Linked DNA regions of Homo sapiens. The protein of the gene in region 1 purifies or fractionates together with the protein of each later gene. This does not show direct contact. Each region holds a gene or a part of one and is shown in the gene's direction. Other genes may lie near its edges. The genes, in order: LDAF1, REEP5, MB21D2, MLYCD, COP1, RAB2B and ZNF518A.

Region 1 (3,500 bases):
AGAATGGCGGGGCATGGTGGCTGATGCTTATAATCCTAGCACTTCGGGAGGCCGAGGCGGGCAGATCACTTGAGGTCAGGAGTTCGAGACTAGCCTGGCCAACATGGTGAAACCCCATCTCTACTAAAAAATATAAATATTAGCTGGAAATCGCCTGAACCTGGGAAGCGGAAGTTGCAGTGAGCCGAGATCATGCCATTGCACTCTAGCCTGGGCAATAGAGTGAGATTCCATCTCAAAAAAACAAAAGGCTAAGAAAAAGGTGGATTCCTTAAGGACTGAAGTGGAACAGTCTTGCCTGTTTCCTTTTATATCCCTGTGCCATACAGTCCCTAAGTCCTGTGTATTCCTTCTTTTGTCATTCCACTTTCATACCCATCTACCCCTCCCCCTTCTCTTCCCTCTCTGCCATCAGCCTGGACTTGACCACAGTATATCTTGCCTGATTTCCTGCAAATCTTTCTACCTGCCTCTTGCACATGATTGCTAGGTTCATATTTCTTAAATCATTCCTTTAATCATGTCATAGTTCTGCTCAAATGACAGCAGTTTGTTCCCTGTTTTTTTTTTCCCAGATGAAATTTAAATGAGTGCTGTCTAGCAGAAATATTATGTGAGCCACATATATAATTTTAAGTTTTTTAATAATTACATTAAAAACAAAAAGAAACAAATGAGATTAATTTTATTTATTTATTTATCTTGAGATGGAGTCTCGCTCTGTCGCCCAGGCTGGAGTACAGTGGCGTGATCTCGGCTCACTGCAACCTCTGACTCCCGGGTTCAAGTGATTCTCCCGCCTCAGCCTCCCAAGTAGCTAGGATTACAGGCACGCACCACTCTGCCTGACTAATTTTTTTGTATTTTTACTAGAGACGGGGTTTCACCATGTTGACCAGGCTGGTCTTAAGCTCCAGATCTTAAGTAATCTGCCCACCTCAGCCTCCCAAAGTGCTGGGATTACAGGTGTGAGCCACCGTGCCCAGCCAGAGATTAATTTTAATAATATATTCTCAATTTAACACAATATATCCAAAACACTATAATTTCAACAGGTAATATAAAAAAGTATTAATGAGATATTTTGCATTTTTTTTTCTTACACTTAAAGCACATCTCAATTCTGATGCCAAATTTTCATTGGAAATATTTAATCTCTATTCAGATTTTATAAAACTTACAATTCAGCGAAATAGATTCACATACCCAACCTATTGGAAACATACTTAAAATTTTTCCAACAACTGAATCAAGTCTCAGCTTTAAAATTTAAATTAAATTAAATTGGAAATCCAGGCCATCAGTCACAGGAGGAGCATTTCAAGTGCTGAATGGCGCAGGTGGCCTGTGATGGACAGCCCGGGGATAAGCTAGCAAGCCCAGTGTCCTGGTGTCCCAGCCTCACAAGTTCCTTCCGCTGCACAGCCCTTCCCTCGCTGGCGCAGCATACTCACGGGTGTACTGCTGCCTCCCTTTCCTGGAGAGCCCATCTGCTCTCCCCACTGTGGTTCTTTGGATTGTAAAGATCAGGTGACACAGGGAGCATCAAATAAGGATGCATGTGGATTCGAACTGGAAAGAAGTCAGGACCTGAGACAGCGCAAGGGACCAGCCCACATTCTGTGTGGTGACTCCCACGGCTCCTCCGCCTCTCTTTCTCTTTCAGCTGCCCCAACACAGCAGGATCTCACTGGACTCTGATGATGGAGTGTCCAGGCTGGGCAGTGCTGGCTCCAAGGTGATTCCTGCTACAGTCATCTCTGGCTAGAGAAGCGGAATAGCAAGCTCTTTGGTGGCTTTTGTCAGAATGGTGGGGTAGCAGGAGGCAGTGAGGTCAGCGGGCATTATGCCGTCCTGTGGCCTGGCAGGGAGTGAAATTGGCCATGCCTCGAGAGTAATCCTTAGGAGACCACGCTGAAGCCCAAGACCAATGGCTGTGGCTTCTTGGCATGGCCTCTTTTATTTAAGCAGGGTGCAGCTTGCACTTTAGTTCCTTCAGCATGAACCACAAACCCCTCCTGCCTTCCAACTCGCCCTGAAAATCCCACTGTTTAAACCACTTGGGTAAACTCTTCTTCCTAGGAGGCACATGTGTTTTGGGGACCTGAATTATGTCTTCTTTTCATCTGTTGGCCTGCAAGGCCGTAGGGATGAGGCTCAGGAAGGACCAGTTATGATGGAAGGAGGTTCTGGAATAATGGTTCCTTTCAAGTGAACAGGATCTAGAATACCAGTACTGAGGAGAGAGAAGGCGTGGAGCCTAAGGAGGAGAGGGGGAAACCCATCTTTGCGGATTTGCCTATGGCCAGCTCTGCGTTAAAGCAGTCTCCCTCCATTGAGTCAGATCGAAAATTCCTTTTTGCCCGGTGAAGGAAAATAAACTATTAACACAACATAAACTTGCATTAGTCACAGGCTGTGGCCAACTATGGTAACCAGGTTGATGACATAAAAGCATTTTTACTTGATGTGGTGGCAGCTGTTGCAAGCATTGGACATTCTGAGTCCAAGACCTTAGGTTTGTTTTTTTTTTTTTGAAAAGGAGACTTGCGGTGGGGCGCGGTATCCCACGCCTGTAATCTCAGCACTTTGGGAGGCCAAGGCGGGTGGATCGCCTGAGGTCAGGAATTCGAGACCAGCCTGGACAATATAGTGAAACCCTGTCTCTACTAAAAATACAAAACTTAGCTGGGCGTGGTGGGGGCGCCCGTAATCCCAGCTACTCGGGAGGCTGAGGCGGGAGAATGGCTTGAACCCGGGAGGCGGAGGTTGCAGTGAGCCGAGATCTTGCCATTGCACTCCAGCCTGGGCGACAAGAGCAAAACTCCATCTCAAAAAAAAAAAAAGAAAGAAAGAAAAGAAAAGGAGACTTGCTCTGTCATCCAGGCTGGAGTGCAATGGCGCCATCTTGGCTCACTGCAACCTCCGCCTTCCAGGCTCAAACGATTCTCGTGCCTCAGCCTCCCTAGTAGCTGGGACTACCAGCACGCGCCACCATGCCTGGCTGATTTTTGTATGTTTAAAAGAGACAGGGTTTCACCATGTTAGCCAGGCTGTTCTTGAACTCCTGACCTCAGGTGACCCGCCTGCCTCCACCTCCCAAAGTGCTGGGATTACAGGTATGAGCCACCATGCTGGCCAGGCCTTAGCTTTTAATGCTGAGATTTTGCCACTTGGAGGCTGTGCGACTCTAGACAAGTGATTAGCTTTTAATGCTGAGCTTAGCTTTTAATAGACAAGTGAATAGACAAGTGATTAGCTTTTAATGCTTACTAATAGACAAGTGATTAGCTTTTAATGCTTAATAATGCTTTTAATAATAATGCTTTTAATAATTATAATTATAATAAATAATATATAAATAATATAATACATATTATAATTATATACATATATAAATATAATATATTTATATAATATATAATAATGCTATATGAATATTGATAACTAATATTAGTATAATATATCTAATATAATTATACAATATTATAATTATGATT
Region 2 (3,500 bases), on another chromosome or scaffold:
ATGAAGAACAACTGTAAAGATTCCTTGAAGGCTAAGATCTACCCAAAACTGAGGTCCACCAAAGGAAGAATTCAGGAATGGACAAGGTATTTTTTCCATAATAGGATGAATAAATGTGATAAACTTACCAAGATAAGCCTACCAAGCACAGGCCTCCTAGATATTAGGCTTATCTGTACAGGGCTTTATACATGCAGATAAGTACTATATTTTCTTAAATTGATTTCTAAGAGTTATGATTAATAAAAGCCTCTTACAGCTATATACTAAAACGTGGTCCAAGTTAGGAAGATAGTTAAGCTCCTGGACCTGGTGTGTTTTACCTTTTGTTTTTTAGTCTCAGCTTTTCCTTACCAGCTCATTACTCATCATGTTTTTTCCATCTAAAGAAAGCCCACCTTTAACCTGCAGAAAACACTGGTAATGCCTTTGGGGAAAATAACAGAGGCATCTCCCATCCCCAGAGTAGTGAAAGACAGTGTGTATTCTCAGAATGTGCCCCCTCCACCCTCCTGTTACCCATGCTGGCTCTTTTTCTGTGCAGTGTGGCTTCCTGTTGTGGTGCATGGCCCCGAGCCCTTCTAATGGGGCTGAACTGCTCTACAAGCGCATCATCCGTCCTTTCTTCCTGAAGCACGAGTCCCAGATGGACAGTGTGGTCAAGGACCTTAAAGACAAGGCCAAAGAGACTGCAGATGCCATCACTAAAGAAGGTAAGACTCAGGAACAAGATGGCCCCACATGTGAGAGGAGATGTGACACACTGGGCTCAAATAACAGGCTTCCTGGCCTTCTTGTCTTATCACCACCCCTCAGCCAAATGCCAACATTACTCTGGGATTTCTTTACAAAGTCTTTGCCTATTGAGAACACTTACAGTTCTCGACTTTTCCCAAGACTCTTCCTCCATGCCACATTTAATGTAGCCTTCAGTCAGAACATTAGGAAAAATGACTTTCCTTGGTAGGCAGCGATTTTAGAGAATCATCTATATTGATATGCAAGTCCATCTCTTCTAATTGTTTATTTAATTTTTTTGTATTATACTTAATTACATAGGTAGTTTTAAATAAATGGAGAAAGCACCTTTCAAAAGCTATACTAGCAGGAAAAATTCCATCAAGCATTTACGTAGTAAATTTCTATAATTTTACAAAAAATTCTTGATCTTTACTTGAACTGTACATGAGGGGAAAAGAGCCCCCTCAGGTATGTGTTCTCTCCACTTGCAGAAGAAAACTAAAGGACCTAAAACTAGAGACAAGCCTGGGATGCCAAAAAGCGGGAGGAGAAATGATAAAGAGCCATTCATGAATTCCATGTCTACTCTAAGACACTTGTCTAATCACCCTCACATAATAAATATTTAGGGCAAACTACCACTCTTTAGAAAAAGTACAACCTCAAAACCTATAGTTCTGAATTGTAACATATCGAATACCTTGGACTGCTGGATGCCAAAAGACAATACTTGGGGTTATCTATGACGTTTAAACAGGTAAATAGGGGAATTCTCTAGGACTGTACACTCTGTGACGTTTTGAATGAAGCGCAGGCAGGCTTCTCTGCTATCCTCCAGGCAGTGTAATAGTCAAGGAAAAGAGCAACAGTATTGGATCACTCCTTAGACACTAACCAGCTGGTGAAAGAGTTCATTGGCCAGTCTCCTCCTTAGAATGGTTTGCACCAAGTGGAGAGGCCATGTCGCTGAAGGGGAAAGGGGAGCCCTCATACCCACAGTCACTGTAAACATCCAGTAGACAGGAAGATGGCTTCGGGCAGTGGCTGGATGGAAGTAGATTGGAGATACCCAGGTCTGGAATGAAGTCATCTTCCACAAAGTCTTCCTTCACTGAGACCACGAATTCTGGGTGATCATTCTCTAAAAGGCTGAGAGGTGCTTCCTTGATTTTCACTACCGCATTAGCTTGGCTCTCTGTCTCAGACTACGGGCTTGGCATATATGTAGTCAAAATTAATTAGTTCATTAATAGCTTCAAGCTTGGCTGATAATGTCCCCACTGACAGAGAAAGGGAGGCTGGTTAGGAATTGGGTCCTTCTGAGTAGACCTCTGGGAGCTGCTCCAGGCTGGCAGACCCTGGGGAAGGACATTTGAAGAACACTAGTGGGTCTAAGTTGTCCAGAATGCCCAACAGGATATCATACTGGGAAGGTAGTTGATGTTTACTTCCAACCCCACCACAACTAACTTCTACCCTCATCTGCCTAGTTAGGGATGTCAAGCATCAAATAGATGGAATTATCTTGGCTTTCGCCTCCTCTTCAGTAACCAGAGCATCCATCCCCAAGTGCTGTCTTCACTCATGGTTCTCAACTACGAGTCCATGCATTTTCTCTTGTAAAAACTGATTTTCTAGCAAAAGTTTTTGGTTCTGTTCTAAATCTACCACTTGCTGTTTCAGGTCACTCATTTGAGCTTGCTTTCTGTCTCTGGCAGTTTGAGCTGCTAATCCTGTTTTTCCTCCTCAGTGCCTTCTCCTTGGGGCTCCCCACCCCCACAGCACTCACCATCTCCTGGCTGGCTCCTCTCTGGGCTGGCACCATGAGCAGCAGGGCCTAGCTGGCCAAGGCTGTAGCAGCAGGCTGACCAGACAGAAGCAGTACTTTGGAGGCCCTGACGGCCAGCCTGATTCAGTTCAGATTGATCGGTTCAGTATGCTGTTCAGTTTTTGTTATGGGTACAAAAGAATGTCCACTCTCAGCTCTGATTAATTCACTCAATAAATATTTATTTATTGAGGTGTTTAATATGTGCCAAGCATGTTCATAACACTGGCAGTGAACCAGCATACCGAAGAGACCATACTCCTTGAATTCATGAAGCTTACAGTCTAGTTGAGAGATAGGCAGTAAAATTGAAAATTAGATAGTATATTTACCATATAATATAGGGAAAAAATAAAGCAAGTAGAAAGATGGGGGGGGGCCAAGGACTGGAGGGATGGTTATGATTTTAAATAGAGACGTTTAGGAAATCTATACCAGAAGGCTCTACTGAATCAGACTCAATAGTAGTAAAGGAATCAGGAACAGTGACTCAGCCTGTAATCCCAACATTTTGGGAGGCTAAGGCAGGAGATCACTTGAGGCCAGAAGTTTGAGACCAGCTTGTTTGTGACAGGGTCTCCTATGGAGACCCGCTCTCTACAAAAATTTAAAAATTAGCCGGACGTTGTGATGCAAGCCTGTGGTGCCAGCTACTCAGGAGGCTGAGGCAGGAGGATCACTTGGGCCCAGGTAATCAAGGCTGCAAGTGAGCTGTGCCACTCTAGCCTGGGTTACAAAGCAAAACCCTATCCCCCTAAAAAAAAAAAAAAATAGAAAATGGTAAAAGAAGGAACCATGGGGAATCATACTTTAGAATGAGCTGCATATACAGAAGTCCGGAGGTGGGAGCAACAAAAGAAGTGATCTAGAGGGGTGCAGGAGGAGATGAGGTGGAAGAAGTTGCGAATGGAGGCTGGAAGACGTATCACAT
Region 3 (3,500 bases), on another chromosome or scaffold:
CTGTCAACACCAAGACACTCCACTGTCTTATCAAAGTAGGGTTCTGCACAGGCTGTGGGGTTGATCTGAGCTTGCTGGTGGTCACTGTGGTCTCTGGGGTCTGTCCTGATGCTCTCTGTTTGTACAGAGATTCTGATTTTTTTTTGGAGGCAGGTGTTAGCTGCAATTGTCTAGATTCACTTCTTATTCCTCTGTACCTTGGTCTTTTAGGAGAATGATTGGTGTTATTATCTAGTTAATATTTGAGAGCCCAGACTGTGCGAAAGGCTGGCAGTGCATAATAAACACCATTTATCAAAATTCAGGGAAATTGCCAGAGTTCATTAATGTTTTAATAATATTTGGTATTAGCATAATGTCTCTGCCAGCTCTTTTGTTATCTTCATTCCCTGGTGAGGTTCGATAGAGACTGGTTTGTGTCCCCATTGAACAGATGCAGAAAAGGGGGTATGCAGATGCTGGAGAAGGCAGGAAAGAAACAAGCCGTCACCTAACCTACAGACCAAGTGGTCGGTACCATGGCATGATTTTTACGGTAGTTAATCATTTACTAATCATCTTCTCAGGGCCAGGAACTTCACATAGACTTTTGAGGAGGTATTGCTTTCCCATTACATAGATGAAGATATTGAAATTTAGTGGGGTGAAGAAAGTGGATATCCAGGGTCACAAAGCTAATAGATGGTAGAGATGCTACTGAAACTCAGGTCAGCCTTACTCTAAAACATGTTCCTCTTCTCCTACTTGAGACTATTAAGAATAGATGCATAAAATCCAGAGGAAAGGCTTTGTTTTAAAAAATCACTTCTTTCAGGATTTTGTTTCGATTTTAGCTATAAGTTTTAGCGTAATATAAGTAGATTTCTGGAACAGTCTGAGTTCAAGTATTCTATAATAAGATCTCCTATTTGAATTTTTGATTGAGAAAATCATAGTAATTATAATAAAATGTTAAAATCTATAGTTTCATTCCCAGTCTGCCTCTTGTTGGCTTTGTGGTCTTAGTATTTTCTCTCTCTTTTTTTGAGACAGGATCTTGCTCCGTTGCCCAGCCTGGAGTGCAATAGTATGATCATGGCTCACCGCAGCCTCAAAGTCCTAGGCGTAAGCTATCTTCCTGTCTCAGCCTCCCTAGTGGCTAGGACTAGAGATGTGTACCACCGTGCCCAGCTAATTTTTTATTTTTTAAAATTTTTGTGTAGATGGAGTCTCACTATGTTGCCCAGGCTGGTCTCAAAATCCTGGCCTCAAGTGATCCTTCTGGCTTGGCCTCCCAAAGTGCTGGTATTACAGGCATGAGCCACCATGCCTGGCCAGTTTTTTCATTTATTAAACATGGATAACAGTAAGCATTGTTTTTCAGAACTGTTATGTCAGAATGTGAAATTACTTTGCTAACTAAAAAAGAATATATACGTGAGTTTATTATTTAAATAAATGTTTGTTTATTTATTTATTTGAGACAGGGTCTCGCTCTGTCACCTAGGCTAGAGTGCAGTGGTACAGTCTCAGCTCACTGCAACCTCTACTTCCTGGGCTCCAAGTGATCCTCCCACCCCAGCCTCCCAAGTAGCTAGGAGTGCAGGCGTGTAACACCACGCCTGGCTAGTTTTTTGTATTTTTGGTAGAGACAGGGTTTCGCCATGTTGCCCAGGCTGGTCTCACACCCCTGAGTTCAAGCAATCCTCCTGCTTTGACCTCCCAGAGTGCTGGGATAAAAATATACTTTCTTAGAAGATCCAGTGAACTTAAATTGGAATTATTTCTGCAGCTTGACATCTGAAAGAACTATGCAGTACAATTAGGGTAGCCCAGGAGGATTTTGGCTCATACCATGTGCTGACCATTGTGCTAGCTACTTTGCCTAAGTCCATTAGCTCATGTAATCTTTTTTCCACAACTTTGTAAGCATAAGTATCATGCCTATTTTGGAAGTGAAATAGGTGTTGTTACCCTTTTTAAAGATGAAATGGTGAGGCTCAAAGAAAGAAGTCAAGAACTTAGGCCAAGATCATTCAGAGTTGGAGACTGAATCCAGTTATTCCTGACTCAGAAGCTCATGTTCCTTTTACTGTAGTAGCAATCAGTTTCCATCACTTTTGGGTGAGACATACTATACTCAGTAGCCTGCCTAGTCTGTAGGAGCAAAGATAATTTCTTTTTTTCTTTTTTCTTTTTTTTTTGAGATACAGTTTTGCCCTTGTTGCCCAGGCTGGAGTGCAGTGGCATGATCTTGGCTCACTGCAACCTCTGCCTCCTGGGTTCAAGTGATTCTCCTGCCTCAGCCTCCCGAGTAGCTGGGATTACAGGCGCCCGCTACCACACCTGGCCAATTTTTGTATTTTTAGTAGAGATGGGGTTTCACCATGTTGTTGGCCAAGGCTGGTCTAGAACTCCTGACCTCAGGTGATCCACCCACCTCGGCCTCCCAAAGTGCTGGGATTACAGGCGTAAGCCACCATGCCCCGCCTGAGATAATTTCTTTTTGTCTTCCTGTCTCTGTCCCTCTTTCTCTCCCTCTGTTTTTTTCACGCATTTGACAAATACTTAATGAATGTAATAGTGTTTGCCAATCAGCGTGCAGGGTTCTGAAGATAAAATGGTGAACAAAAACTTTGAGAAATTCATAAGGGCCTTCAGGGACCCCTCCCCTGTTTCCTTTGCCCACCAACTCTAGCAGGATATTTTGCTGGCTGTTTCTCCTTTCAGGCCAATAAGTGCCATGTGGCCATTTCAAAGATGTAAATGCTTGGTGTGGTGCTCCTGGACCTACCATATTTTTAGGCACTTTCTACATCTCCAGAGTGGGTAATTTTGAAGCCCTACCTTTCCAGTGTTTGATTGCTACTTTTCTGTTAATGAATTCCCCCAGCAGGATTTACCATGGAAATTTATGGTGCGTTGGTGTTTTATGGGCCTCCATGTGCTTGGAAAGTTCCCGAGAGTTGTATTCACTATGTGCTGCATCTGTAGAGTGCACAGGATCATCTCGGAAGTTTGTTCTATCTCTGAGAACATTATGTATCCAGGGCAGGGGATCTCTCCAAACATTCATTTTTGTGCTAGTTTGGATTGGTTTCAATTCCCCCTCCATGGTTCTGGGCAGTGGCTGCCCTTCGTCCTTGAGAGAAGAGGCCTAGAACTGTCGACAGTCCTGGGTCTTCCTGTCATTCCTTGTCATGCCACTCATTGGATAATACATTGCTCACAGTTAGGCTGAGCCCCTTTTTAATTCACAGAAATATTAGATTCTAACAATTCAAAATCTCTGGTCCCATTCAGACCTATTGAATCCGAATTCCCTAGAGATCCCCCAACAAGCTGCTCAGCATGTCAACATCCTGTCCTGTGTTAGGCTTGATGTTCTGCATTCTCTGTTCTAGGCACAGTGAGCATGATCCCAGTTGACTTTTGAGACTAGAACCAAGCTGCTGAGCCTAATGAGCAGATAATGTCTGTCTGCTCCTGGAAAGTAATAGTGGAGTTCTTCCACCTGGGAC
Region 4 (3,500 bases), about 63 Mb from region 1:
CAGTCTGCAGTGGAAAGGACAAAGAAAAAGATGGGCCAAGGGCCTGCTCCTGCTGTCTTTTCAAGTTCCCCAAAGTGGCTGCAGGAGACCTCTGCTTACCCCTCATTGACCAGAACTCTGTCACATGGCTGCCCCCAGCCGCAGTGCAATCTTTGTTCTGGACAGCTGTGTCCCTAGCTGAAAAGTGAGGCTTCTGTTAATTTGAAAGAAAAGGGGTACAGCCATCGGGGAACAACAAGCTGTGGCTGTGCAGGCAGCACCGAGGCGACGCTGCTCCTGCTCAGGGCCTTGTGTTCTGCTCTTGCTGGAAAAGCTTCAGTGCAGATGTATCTTGGGTGGTCAAGTCAATTCACATCATTTTTGGAAGTAGATACAATATAAATAAGTGAGGCAAAATTAGGATAATTTCATCAACTCTGAAATGCATTGGTTGCCAGATACGCTATTATTTTATGTCCCTCTAAGGTAGGTTAAAAATGCTGCCAGTTACGGCGGGGCACAGTGGCTGACGCCTGTAATCCCAGCACTTTGAGAGGCCGAGGCAGGCAGATTGCCTGTGCTCAGGAGCTCGAGACTAGCCTGGGCAACGTGGCAAAACCCCATTTCTACAAAAAAGACAAAAAAAAATTATCCAGGCTTGGTGGCGCTCACCTGCAGTCCCAGCTACTTGGGGGGCTGAGACAGGAGGACCACATGAGCCCAGGAGGTCAAGGCTGCAGCGAGCCGTGTTCATGCTGTTGCACTCCAGCCTGGGTGACCGAGTGAGACCCCGTCTCTTAAAACAAAAATGCTGCCAATTAGTCTGTGACCCGCCATCATTCGAAAGATGCATCCTGACTTGAGAGATGTTAAAATATGAAAATGTACATCTCTGAGTTGATGAAATAGGGTTCCTGAACCAAGTACTTGTCTTTCTTAGGAAATGTAGGCGTAATGTTTTGACGTATCAAAGAAGGTTCCCGAGAGGATGAGGACAGTGCTGTTGACACCCTTGCTGTCTTAGTGTTTCCCTTACAGTGCATCTTTCATTGTTATGTTGATTTTATATGATTAGTATGCTCACTATGGTGAACGAATTGGAAGATATTATTTGATTTGGGCAACTTAGTTCAAATTGAATTGTTTCCTTCAGAGGTCTTAACAGACTGAAGTAGTTAAGTCTAAATAGAGCGTTGAACGAAAGAAAGCCTGACTTGGTTTGAGATAAGATGTCTGACAGAGGAATCTTGGGAAAAGCTGTTTGGAGAGTTGTCTTGCACAATTGTCTTATGTATCGTGCTTGAGTGTTTTCATTCCTTGTGCTGACCACAACACAGAGATGGGCTTGATCTGTCGCACATTGGAGGCCTGGGATTTATCTTCTCCTTTTCAGGAAATGAATGGGGTGCTGAAAGGAATGCTCTCAGAATGGTTTTCCTCCGGGTTCCTGAACCTAGAACGGGTTACCTGGCATTCACCGTGTGAAGTGCTTCAGAAAATCAGTGAGTAAGTATTACGGTTTTCATTTTCTTTGTACATACATTTTTCATATATATTTGTGTATGTTTTATATTGGCTAAAAGCTAATCTATCTCCATTCATATGTACAGTTTATTTCAAGTCTAATAAAATCCAAACACAGTATTTGCAAATGCTGCGGCTGTCACCACACATGATACTAAGATTATGGAGGAAGACGAAAGGGCACCAAGAGAAACTGATATGTCTGTCAGTGACCTGCGTGTGAGGTCTTATTTGTGTCCTCTTATTTAAAGCAAACACACCCATTTTCGCTCGTCCCAAGACCCCGTGATCAGAGTTGTAGAAACTCACTGGACCAAGCGTTTGCATTCGTAATCAAAACAGTATTTAGCCCACCTGGTGGTTAAGATTTCTCCCTGAGTTAAAATCTCTAAACAAACTATATCATGTGTTAGTTACATCCAGGACCCGTATGACACAGGCTAGCATGTCACGGTGCCTTCACTACCTTTGCACGTAGGCATCTTCACATTACATGTTGTCCCATGGAATCCATGGTTTGAAAAGTGTCCTATTTGAAATGTAACCAATTCAATTCAAAGGGCTGACAGTGCCTGCTGCCATTTCACATGCTGAAAACAAAATAGCGGTGGGGCGAGATTGCTGGAAGACACCAGATGAGCCCCCTGATTGCAGCACTGACGGCTTCACAGAGATCCCAAGGAAAGAAAAGACAGTGTTCAACACCAAGCGTTTGATTAGGTTTCACGTTAAAATCTGCATGAATCCTTCCCCGGAGCCTCACAAACTCCTTTTAAAACTGGGGTTAAAACTGGAGCACAATTTTGTGTGTAAAATGGTCATTCACTGTAGTTCCTCTCAGTGGGTGCTGTTTCTCATGAAAATGACTTTCTTTGAATTTTCCAGAAGAGTCCATTAAAGCTCTATTTAAAGAACTTGTTTGACTTAGACGAATAGTATGAATAGGAGTCAGCAGCCGTTGCTTGTGAATTATGCATTTGTCTTGTCTCTTTATAAATTCCGCCCCAGGGCTGAGGCTGTGCATCCTGTAAAAAACTGGATGGACATGAAGCGCCGCGTTGGGCCCTACAGAAGGTGTTACTTCTTTTCTCACTGTTCGACCCCTGGGGAGCCCCTGGTCGTTTTGCACGTGGCACTGACTGGTGACATCTCCAGCAACATCCAGGTACCTGCGATGGTCAATTCGGGACAAGATGGGCACCCCATAGAGCCCCTTGTGTTTTTTGTTTTGTTTTGTTTTTACTTGATTTTATCCTCCTTTTTTTTTTTTTTAAATAAATGGTTTTGGGCTTTTTTAAATTGGTTAAATAAAATCTCCAGATTTGTAGGTGTAGAGCGTAGAAGTGTAACAGGCAGACAGTTATGGAGCAAGGCGAGCATTCATCTGGCTGTGTTGATCTTAGGTTGAGATACAGTTAAAGTCTATCACAGAACATGTTTGTGAGGCAGAAAATAATTGTGAAGGAAGAAGGGACAGATACCTGATTCATACATAGTTTACCTTTACAGCTTTTGTTAAATGCCTGTGGGGAGTTTTGAAAGATACTTGATTAGAAAATTGAAAGAGGCACTCCATCCCTTATGCTTGATGTGGGCCGAGGACACTCCTTGGCGAGTGGAGGTTATGGGACTTGTGGTTGATAGCCCCGTCTGTGGCAAGCTGCTCTGCTCCTGGATGAGTTTGGCAAGAATGTCTGAAACACTCCTGCAGGCCCGTGGGGGCAGAAGAACCAGGGAGCACATTGCAGGGTCTGGAAATAGGAGTGCTAAAGATAGGTGGCAGGGAGCATGAGACCCCTGGGGCATTGCAGGTTTGCTCAGACCAAGAGGACATGAGTGGCTGTTAGGAAGCTAAGTGGATGATGGCCCATCACAAGATGAGTGCCCTAAGCAGGTGTCCTGCTGAGAAGTTAGAGAAGCTGAGTAGGGCAAATGAGCAGACATTCCTGATCACCAAGGAGAAACACATTCCCTTACAATGTTTGTGTGTGAAAGAG
Region 5 (3,500 bases), on another chromosome or scaffold:
CAAATTATATACTAATTTATTTATTAAAAATAAAATTTAATATTGTGAAATTCTACTACCTCCACAAAATGGCAGGGAAATAAGTAGAATGTATGGAAAAATTAGTTGATAATTGTCTTTTGGCATACTTTTAGTATATCAAATGATTCACGCCATTAAATCTTTCTCAGTAAGCTGTAATATGGTTATTAGAACTGAATGAAAAGCATGTCAGGTGTCTTGGAACAAAAGTACACCTGTGCACAATTGTGTAGATATACAAATGTATATATTAAAAGTTTTATATTACACAAATCTCAACAACTTTTAATTTGATATGTGTTGATTACTTAATCTGGATATGAGGTCTAGTACAATTTGAAGGTATTTAAAGTAGATCTTTTATCCTTGTAGACCGAATTACTTTAGAAATAGAAAATAGCAAATTCTGAAATGTTGTCATTACATACTTTTTCCCCTTAGTATTGAATTTGACCGGGATTGTGACTATTTTGCGATTGCTGGAGTTACAAAGAAGATTAAAGTCTATGAATATGACACTGTCATCCAGGATGCAGTGGATATTCATTACCCTGAGAATGAAATGACCTGCAATTCGAAAATCAGGTATTTACATTATTTTCTTGACATGATGCAGTATAGATGTAACAATTTGCATATGTAATTATCATGAGATTATTTTACCTTTGCATGACACTTTTTACTCATGGTGAACACTATTATTGTACTATGTATACAGAGTATATATTATTACTTATATCATCTTTCTTACAGATATTGGTTGCTTTTTTCTTGTGAGGTTAGCCTTTTTTTTTTTTCTGGTTGCCAAATTAAAGTTCTTCTTTCACTTAATCAAATAAAGGTCTTTGTTGGACATGGTTGTTGGAGACTCTATGGAGTACTGAATGAGGATTAATGTAGCTTATGAATAGTATTTGAACATCAGGAATTTTTCCCCTAGCCTGCACATATCTCAACATATTAGAATTGTTTCTAGTTTTAAGAATTTTTTTTACAAGAATATTCTGCTTTTCACTGAAGGAATGGTGTTTATGTTTTCTGTATTAGAGATTATACTTTATAAGCAGTGCTTTTCAAACCTAAAATACTCTTAAACACTAACAGTATGTTAAGACTCTACTCCTGATCTGCTCCCCAAAAAATCTCAGAAGAATTCTAGAATCTGCTTTTTTTTTTTTTTTTTTCCTTCTAAACAAGCTTCCCAAGCTGTTCTCATGAGCACTGGCTTTAAAAGAGAATTATATGAGGAAATCATCTAATAATAACTTTGTATAGAACTTTGAACATTTTCAAAATAGCCATCCTTGAACCTTTTTTATCTTTAATGAATGGCATACATAGTATGTTTGTTACAGTCTTTGTATAATTTATTTGTTATAACTTTCTTTTTTCTAGTTCATTTATAAAAATACTATATCGATAATTGGTGAGCTTCCCCATTCATTTGTGGCACTCATCATTGAGAATCTGTTATAGTTTATGTCCTAAGTGAAGAGGATATAACATGAATTAGATACAAGTTTATTGAATTCTTATATATCAGGCATTATCCTAAGTGCTTGGTCTTTAGCAGACCTATGAAATAGTTACCATTATTGCTCCATTTTATACAAAGAAAGCTGAGCACAGGAAGGTAAATAACCTGCCTAAGATTATACACCTGCTATATAGAGGAGCCAGGATTCAGACTGAAGTAGTTTGGTTCTAGAGTCTGTGCCCTTAAACATTTCCTGCTCCTTATTTATAAAATGGAGGTCACAATAGTAATACTTATTTAATAGGATTGTACTTTTAAAAAATCCCCATAATGCACTCAGAACAACACTTGGCCCATGGCAAGTACTCATAATATATTACATAATGAAAACGTGGATTAGAAAGTTTAAATGTGCTGTCTACCTGTTCTGTATTTGTATGTGTAAAAATGTGCAATACTTCCTGATATATTGGAATAAATGGTGAAAGCGCTCAAGGCTGAAAGCTGTGGGCCTGGGGCTGAAAGGATCAATACCTAAGGATGCCTAAAATAGATTCGGAGCACATCTACTGTGAAAGTGTACTAAATTAGCCAGAGCCACAGCTAATAAGTAACAGATCTGGAATTTGAACTCAAGTCTACCTAAATTCAAAATGTGTCTCTTAATTGTTCCAGATAATTTCTACCAGAAATTCTAATTAAGTATATTTAAAAATGCAAATAAACTCTTCCAGTCTCTGGAATTTAGCATCAATGCAACTAGTAGAAAGCAAAAGACCTTGTGTTCATGTCTTAGAAGTTACCTACATTAACTGCCTTCTAAGTAACTTCTTCCATAATATGCATTCCCTTTACTATATGCGTGATGCAGATATGTATCTCAGCAGAAGTTTTTAGATGTTGTAGACTTCTGGAGTACTTGAGAATAGCCAAAACCATAAATGATAAAAGTTTGATTCTAACTTTTAGATGCTTTTAATTGGAATTTTAGTCATAAGTTATAATTAGTCAAGTCAAGACTTTTGGGATGTAAATACAGAAACCCAATTCACTGTAGTTTATTTGGCTTATATGATTTGGCACAACTGGATCCAGGGGGTTAAACAGTCTCATCAGGTCTGTCATTCTGCCATGGTATGCCTTGAGCCCTCTGGATAGTATCACCTTCACTGATAGACATCGTTTCCTCATGTATCAAAGATGGCCAGTGATAGCTCTAGGCTCACATCCATCTTAACAGCTAGTGATCACAGTAAAAGGTGGTTAGGGTCATTACTTGTTAATTTTTATTTTTAAAATTTCAAAATTATTGGTATGTCTTTTCCCAGGTATGTTGTGGGCAGAATAATGATTGTGAACTGATAGAGACCATTTTAAAATAGTGCAAATCTTTCTGAACACATTAAAATTATTTTTATCCCATTGTTATTTATTTTTATGTAAAGTAACTTTTAACTGTATTTCTTTCAGCTGTATCAGTTGGAGTAGTTACCATAAGAACCTGTTAGCTAGCAGTGATTATGAAGGCACTGTTATTTTATGGGATGGATTCACAGGACAGAGGTCAAAGGTCTATCAGGTAAATAAGGGTACTAGTTACATGTTATATGAATCATACATTTGGTTTGTTAAAACTTTTAGAACTTCATGTGCCTTATAATTACAGATTTGAAGTCACTATTTAGTATTTTTTATACCTGTGTAACACCTATGCAATACCAAATGCTTTTTTTTCCTGTCTCCCACTTTTGGTACCATATGCTTTTCCAAAGCATTTCTTCAGACTTCGGTCTTTATGGAATGTATCAGGTAAATTTCTAAAAGCAATAATTTTGGTAAATGTATAAAAAGTTTTGGAAGTACTTTATATCAACATCTTATTTGCTTTTCATTTGTTTTCTAGCCTGTTGTCTTTCCCTCTCCCCGTAACAATAAATTGATATCAGGTTTTTTTTTTTCTTGCTTTATTCATTTTGAGATCTGTATTCTATCTGAGGCTACT
Region 6 (3,500 bases), on another chromosome or scaffold:
GAGTTAGTATACTGGAATTCTCTTCTCACCTACAAACCCCAGTTTAGGTTATATGATATAGTGGCTAAGAGGACAAGTTTTTGTCCTAGGAAGTACTAAGATCCTAAGTTTAAATTATGGCTCTAGCACTTAATAAGCTTTATGATTTGGGGCCGTTTATTAAACTTGTGTGAGCCTCATTTTCCCCATTTTTAAAAGGAAATAATAAGCCAGGCACGGTGGCTCATGCCTGTAATCCCAGCACTTTGGGAGGCCGAGGCGGGTGGGTCATGAGGTCAGGAGTTCAAGACCAGCCTAGCCAACATAGTGAAAACCCATCTCTACCAAAAATACAAAAAAATTAGCCAGGCATGGTGGTGGGCGCCTGTAATCCCAGCTAATTGGGAGGCTGAAGCAAGGAGAATTGCTTGAACCTGGGAGGCGGAGGTTGCAGTGAGCCAAGATTGCGCCACTGCACTCCAGCCCGGGCAACAGAGCGAGACTCCCTCTCAAAAAAAAAAAGAAAAAAAAAAAGGGAATAATAATATCGGCCCCAGGGTTGCTAAGAGAAGTAAATGAAATAATATATGTAATTGTCTCTTAAAGTTCGTAGCACATTTTATATGCCAAAAAGTAGTTTATAGTACTATTGCAGTGTTATAATTAGTGTTACCACTGTTACTGGTATTATACTATGAGAAAGCCATTTATTTTCCCACATCCTTAATCATGATTCTCCCATTTGTAACCTATAAATTATAGTCTTACCTCCTGTTATGTAGGGATGTAAGGATAAATTATTTCAAGAATGTGAAAACTTTCTTAATAGGATAGATTCAATGTACAGGGTATTCATATTATTTAAAAAATGTTTTTGTTTTCCCTAAAGGAAAAAAAAAGAACTAGTCCATCAAGAAAGCAAAAGTACCCAGTATTATGGGGGCATTAATAAATTACTCAGTTTTAAATAGAACTTAATATCTTTGTCCAACTGGAAATGAGATTAGAGTGTGAACATTTGGATTTTTCTAGGAAAACTCTATGCTGGGCCCTGGGCTTCTTTCTCTGTTTGTTATTCCTATTTCCCATGACAGAAGCCCAGCAAGGGACATCTAGGTAGTCTTGCATTATCAGTGGAACACTAAAGGTCAGTTAGAAGATAATCAGTTGAAGTGCTTTTAATCTAATTTTTATATTGATTCATTGGAATGAAATTTCTATTAGACCAGGTTTTGGCATTCTAAGATAACTTTCCTTTTTACAGATAAAGAAATGGGAACAGAAAGATTAATATGGTGTGTTCAATATCATATTTGGGATTGAAAAAAATGACATACACTCCGTTTCCAGTCCTATTTCCAGTTGTTCTTTTATGAGGATATTGGGAAATGTATGCAAATGTCTTCATCGTCTTTATCGTGCTGACTGGGGTGCCACAGGTATTTAGTGACTGGGATCTAGGATGCTAAACATCCACTAATCTGATGGACAGTCTCTCAGGAAGAGTAAGTGACTGCCCAAAATATCAATGCACTCCCATAGAAAAATATTGATTTCCCACTTGGGTTTCTTCTCGGGCAGGCATGTTTTCTTTCCCTAATTCTCTTTTCGTAATAGAAATTCTTTTTTTAGTTAAGTCCTTTGTATTAGGGTGGCATGTGATCAAGTCGGTTCTGTGGAAATAACCTGGTTTTGTTGGGATTTTTTGTTGCCATGTTGGTGGGAAAGGCTGGGCAAGAATCCTTCCGTTCTATCACCCGTTCCTACTACAGGGGAGCAGCTGGAGCACTGCTGGTGTACGACATTACAAGGTGAGCCAGATCTGGTGCATGGGAGGGAGATTCTTCCCTAAATCCTCTAAAGCTTTTTTTTTTTTTCTATCTACTGATTCTGTTAAGGATGTTAACTAGGAATGGCCTCTCTAATATTTTTCTTTACACGTATGGCTTCCCCTCTTTTCGTATACGCTTGGAGTTGTTTTGGCCTTTTGAAATGTGTCTCTGACCCACATTCTAAATTTTTCTGCTGTAGGCGTGAAACCTTCAACCACCTGACCTCATGGTTAGAGGATGCCCGGCAGCACTCTAGTTCCAACATGGTTATCATGCTCATTGGGAATAAGAGGTAAAATTGTATCCATGTGAATAATAGTTAACAGGAGTCATCTAGGTACTCTATGCACATTGATCCCCAAACTTTCTCAGTTTATAGTGGTCTTAGTGTTTCAGTAAAAAAAAAAAATTTTGTTGTGATAAAATATATATGACACAAAATTTACCATTTTAACTATTTTTAAGCATACAGTCCTGTAGCATTAAGAATATCCATTGTTCCACAGCCATCACCAACATCCATCTCCAGAACTTTTTCATCTTCTCAAACTCTATACACATTCAACACTAACTCTCCATCTTCCCTCCCCCATCCCCCTCATCCCTCAGCCCCTGACAGCCATCATTCTACTTTATGAATTTGACTACTACTGGTACCTCATACAAGTAGACTCATGTAATATTTGTGCTTTTGTGACTGGCTTATTTCACTTAGCATAATGTCTTCGAGGTTTATCCATATTGTAGCATGTGTCAGAATTTCCTTCCTTTTTAAAGATGAGTAATATTCATTGTATGCATATACCACAATATTTTGTTTATCCATCTGTCCATGGACACTTGGGTTGCTGCCATCCTTTGACTATTGTGAATAATGCTGCTATGAACATGGATCTGTTCAAGTCCCAGCTCTGAATTCTTTTGGGTATATGCCCAGAAGTGGGATTGCTGGATCATATGGTAATTCTTTTATTTTTTGAAGAACCACCATACCATTTTCCATAGCAGCTGTCTCATTTTACATTCTTTCCAGCAATGTACAAGGATTCCAGTTTCTCTACATCCTTAACAACACTGGTTATTATCAGTAAATTTTTTTTGACACCCATAGGCCAAAAGAAATACCTAATAGTTTTGTTAAATAGTTATACCCAAACAACATGAGTATTTTTTATAACCGCTTAGTAACTGTTTGAAAATAAAAAGGCCAGGCGCAGTGGCGTATGCCTGTAATCCCAGCTCTGGAAGGATTGCTTGAGTCCATAAGTTCAAGACCAGCCTGGGCAACATAGTGAGACCTTGTTTATACAAAAAAATTTTTAAATGAGGTGGGAGGATCACTTGGGCCTGTGAGGTCGAGGCTGCAATGAAGCTGTAATTGTACCACTGCACTCCTGCCTCAGCAACAGGAGTGAGACCCTATATAAAAAAAAGAAAAAATATGCCAGGCGTGGTGGCTCAAGCCCGTAATCCTAGCACTTTGGGAGGCCGAGGTGGGTAGATTAGAAAGTCAGGAGTTCAAGACCAGCCTGGCCAATATGGTGAAACCCCGTCTGTACTGAAAAAATACAAAAAGTAGCCAGGCGTGGTGGCACGCACCTCTAGTCCCAGCTATTTGGGAGCTTGAGGCAGGAGAATTGCTTGAACTCGGGAGGCGGAGGTTGCAGTGAGCTGAGATAGTGCCACTGC
Region 7 (3,500 bases), on another chromosome or scaffold:
TGCACTGCAGCCTGAGCGACAGAGTGAGACCCTGTCATCAATCTTTTCTTTCTTTCTCTTTCTCTGTTTCTTTCTTCCTTTCTTCCTTTCCTTCCTTCTTTCGTTTCTTTCTCCTCCCTCCCTCCCTCCTTCTTTTCTTTTTTTTCCTTCCTTCCTGCCTTCTTTTCTTTTTTTTCTTTTCTTTTCTCTTAACAAAGCAGTGAGTTAAAACCTGACTGTTGGATTGTAGAGCCTTCAATTAGTGTCTAGTTCATTCTCCTAGAAAGACAAGTGCTCTGCTTGGCTAGTCATTCTGAAATCATCTGTAAGCCCCATCTTAGTTTAAGAATAGCCATCAGATAATTCTTCTCAGCCTTTTCTCCTGGTTTCCTGACAGTTCCAGTTACTTTTTCAGCTTTTCTTCTTTTAGGGCCCTAAAAACCCTTCATGAGGCCTTCATCTTGTGTTACCTTTTCTTTGTAATACTAAAGTTTTATGACAAACATCCCATTCTGGATTCACATTTTACTGTATTAGTCATGGCATGTAAAACAATTCAATAATTGGTACCCTTCTGATTAATTTATTATAGATCTCTTAATATGTAATTCAACTTTTAATGATTCCCTCAGTAAAGGATTTCTAAAACAGTAAAGTTTGTAGGTATTTAGATTAATTGAAGTTTAAAGCTGAGACCTTTGGATAGACATTATGGATGAGGAGCTTAATGTGATTTATACTATGTTTTGTTTAGCTTATCTGATTTTGTCTATTCATACATATATATATATATAAAGCACAAAATTAAAAACATGTAATTTTTCTAATAATACAGTTTGATATATTAATGACTGAACCTTCAGTATTCAGATTCCTGTCTCAACAATATATTGTTATGTCCCATACGTGGTAATCACATAGAGTAATAGTGGTAGCTGTGATTTATATGGCACTTTAAAGGATATTTTTACATATATTTTCTCATTTTATCTTCACAACAACCTTGTGAAAGACATAGGGGAAGTACTAATTTTTCCCCCCATTTTACAGATGAAGGAACTGAGACACAGAGGTTGAGACTTGTCTAAAGTAACATGACCAGTAAGTGCTTGAATTAATGCAGGTAGGTAGTGATGGGTATGTTCTAATCTGCCAAGGGCTTTTCCTTGCTGTCATCTGGCTTGAGTTCTGAGGATATAAATTCATATAGCCAAAATGGTAGGGAACCAGAAAGGTAATGAGTAGATGGACTTTAGGACTACACTAGGGAAATGGTGCTGCTGTTCTTTTTAATTTCTTCCTTTTTGTTCTTTTTGTTTGGTTTCTAACTTGTTAGTAATGATAAGCAGATACCGTCTTTGGTTGTTTCCGTTAGATGAATGAAGCTTTTGTTTTAATTGTAGATTATCCCTGAGGAACTAAGGAAATAGAAAATCTGGAGAGAAGTCTGTTGGGATTCTCACAGGGAATAGCTATTAGATCAACTAAGCAAATGAAAAAGTTAATAGTATATGGATAAACCACATGTGTGTAATTGGAACTTCTTAGGATTCTAAGATTTTTAAAATCTTGTTTAAAAACTGTATTATCACCTTAATATAAAAATCTTAGCGCTTGAGCGTACTTACCCAACTGTGGTTTTCTTTAGATGAGGAAACTGAGGTCCAGAGAAGTTGAAGTTTTCCCAAGGTCACACAGCAGAGCTGGAACTAGAGCTTGCATTTCCTGACTTCCAGATTAGTGTTATTTTTACTTCAAACTATTACTTCTTGGTAAGCTGTTCTTAAAATACTTAAAAAGTCTTTTGTATATTTAATTTATGTTTTTGATTAACATTCCTACTTTGTGCCAAAATGAACTTACAGATACGAATTTACTATTATTTTTGTGATGAGAATTTCAATTCTTTGTTTAATTTTAGGTGAGTTATTGTGGGAAAAATCCTGTATATTGAAGATGTCTCTACACAGTATCGTTTCCTGTTTAAATTACAGATAACTTCAAGAGTTTTCAGAAAAAAAGAAATTGGGACTTTTTTGGTTAAATCATGCCATCTGAACAGAAACAGTTATTTTGTGATGAAAAACAAACTACTTTAAAAAAAGATTATGATGTGAAAAATGAGATAGTTGATAGGTCGGCACCTAAACCAAAAATTTCAGGAAGTATTCATTATGCACTAAAAAATGTGAAAATTGATTTGCCAAAAATAAATATTCCAAATGAAGTCCTATTGAAACATGAAGTTGACAAATACAGAAAATTATTTCAGAGTAAACAGCAGACTGCAAGAAAATCTATCAGTATAAAGACTGTAAGCTGTGTAGAGGAGTGTACATTGCTTCATAAGTCTGAGAGAGCTGAAGAAGAGGGTGTAAAAATGTCTGCAAAAATACTCAATTTCAGCTGTTTAAAATGCCGAGACAACACTCGATATAGCCCAAATGATTTGCAGAAACACTTTCAAATGTGGCACCATGGCGAATTACCTTCATATCCTTGTGAAATGTGCAACTTTTCAGCAAATGACTTTCAGGTATTTAAACAACACAGACGAACCCATAGAAGCACTTTAGTAAAATGTGACATTTGTAACAATGAGAGTGTATATACTTTACTGAACTTGACAAAGCATTTCACATCCACACATTGTGTTAATGGTAATTTTCAATGTGAAAAGTGTAAGTTCTCCACCCAGGATGTTGGCACATTTGTTCAGCACATTCATAGACATAATGAAATTCATTATAAGTGTGGTAAATGTCATCATGTATGTTTTACCAAAGGAGAGCTTCAGAAGCACCTTCATATTCATTCTGGTACTTTTCCCTTCACTTGTCAATATTGTAGCTATGGTGCCACCAGGAGAGAACACCTTGTAAGACATGTTATAACTTTGCACAAAGAACATTTATATGCAAAAGAAAAACTGGAAAAAGACAAATATGAAAAAAGAATGGCAAAGACTTCTGCAGGACTTAAGCTAATACTGAAAAGATATAAAATAGGTGCATCAAGGAAGACGTTCTGGAAACGTAAGAAAATTAACAGTGGAAGTGACAGAAGTATAGAAAAGAACACTCAAGTGCTTAAGAAAATGAACAAAACACAGACTAAATCTGAAGACCAGAGCCATGTTGTTCAAGAGCATTTAAGTGAAGAAAAGGATGAAAGACTACACTGTGAGAATAATGATAAAGCCCCTGAATCAGAGTCAGAGAAGCCAACTCCTCTGTCCACTGGGCAAGGTAATAGAGCTGAAGAGGGACCAAACGCTAGTTCAGGTTTCATGAAGACTGCTGTACTAGGACCTACACTGAAAAATGTAATGATGAAAAATAATAAACTAGCAGTTTCCCCTAACTATAATGCTACGTTTATGGGCTTCAAGATGATGGATGGAAAACAGCATATTGTATTAAAATTGGTGCCTATCAAACAAAATGTATGTTCACCAGGCTCACAGTCAGGTGCTGCAAAGGACGGTACTGCTAATTTGCAGCCCCAGACTTTGGACACTA

The links.
Region 2: the proteins of LDAF1 (region 1) and REEP5 purify together in Homo sapiens (co-immunoprecipitation; one large-scale study listed by IntAct). This does not show direct contact.
Region 3: the proteins of LDAF1 (region 1) and MB21D2 purify together in Homo sapiens (co-immunoprecipitation; 2 studies listed by BioGRID and IntAct, with this or other methods). This does not show direct contact.
Region 4: the proteins of LDAF1 (region 1) and MLYCD purify together in Homo sapiens (affinity purification with mass spectrometry; one large-scale study listed by BioGRID and IntAct). This does not show direct contact.
Region 5: the proteins of LDAF1 (region 1) and COP1 purify together in Homo sapiens (affinity purification with mass spectrometry; one large-scale study listed by BioGRID and IntAct). This does not show direct contact.
Region 6: the proteins of LDAF1 (region 1) and RAB2B purify together in Homo sapiens (affinity purification with mass spectrometry; one large-scale study listed by BioGRID and IntAct). This does not show direct contact.
Region 7: the proteins of LDAF1 (region 1) and ZNF518A purify together in Homo sapiens (affinity purification with mass spectrometry; one large-scale study listed by BioGRID and IntAct). This does not show direct contact.

The regions. Positions count from the first base shown.
Region 1 is NC_000016.10:21,165,174-21,168,673, forward strand, and holds part of LDAF1 (lipid droplet assembly factor 1), read left to right. Parts: intron 1-1,666; coding exon of another isoform or gene 1,667-1,738; intron 1,739-3,500. UniProt on the Homo sapiens protein: Plays an important role in the formation of lipid droplets (LD) which are storage organelles at the center of lipid and energy homeostasis. In association with BSCL2/seipin, defines the sites of LD formation in the endoplasmic reticulum.
Region 2 is NC_000005.10:112,884,228-112,887,727, reverse strand, and holds part of REEP5 (receptor expression-enhancing protein 5), read left to right. Parts: intron 1-544; coding exon 545-713; intron 714-3,500. UniProt on the Homo sapiens protein: Plays an essential role in heart function and development by regulating the organization and function of the sarcoplasmic reticulum in cardiomyocytes.
Region 3 is NC_000003.12:192,911,357-192,914,856, reverse strand, and holds part of MB21D2 (nucleotidyltransferase MB21D2), read left to right. Parts: intron 1-3,500. UniProt on the Homo sapiens protein: Probable nucleotidyltransferase that catalyzes the formation of cyclic dinucleotide second messenger in response to some unknown stimulus.
Region 4 is NC_000016.10:83,905,615-83,909,114, forward strand, and holds part of MLYCD (malonyl-CoA decarboxylase, mitochondrial), read left to right. Parts: intron 1-1,372; coding exon 1,373-1,485; intron 1,486-2,511; coding exon 2,512-2,668; intron 2,669-3,500. UniProt on the Homo sapiens protein: Catalyzes the conversion of malonyl-CoA to acetyl-CoA.
Region 5 is NC_000001.11:176,043,287-176,046,786, reverse strand, and holds part of COP1 (E3 ubiquitin-protein ligase COP1), read left to right. Parts: intron 1-462; coding exon 463-606; intron 607-2,968; coding exon 2,969-3,077; intron 3,078-3,500. UniProt on the Homo sapiens protein: E3 ubiquitin-protein ligase that mediates ubiquitination and subsequent proteasomal degradation of target proteins.
Region 6 is NC_000014.9:21,466,960-21,470,459, reverse strand, and holds part of RAB2B (ras-related protein Rab-2B), read left to right. Parts: intron 1-1,243; exon of another isoform or gene 1,244-1,251; coding exon of another isoform or gene 1,252-1,274; intron 1,275-1,280; exon of another isoform or gene 1,281-1,367; coding exon of another isoform or gene 1,368-1,418; intron 1,419-1,707; coding exon 1,708-1,790; intron 1,791-2,010; coding exon 2,011-2,103; intron 2,104-3,500. UniProt on the Homo sapiens protein: The small GTPases Rab are key regulators of intracellular membrane trafficking, from the formation of transport vesicles to their fusion with membranes. Rabs cycle between active GTP-bound and inactive GDP-bound states.
Region 7 is NC_000010.11:96,154,297-96,157,796, forward strand, and holds part of ZNF518A (zinc finger protein 518A), read left to right. Parts: intron 1-1,029; 5' UTR 1,030-1,080; exon of another isoform or gene 1,081-1,627; 5' UTR 1,628-1,751; intron 1,752-1,900; 5' UTR 1,901-2,026; coding exon 2,027-3,500.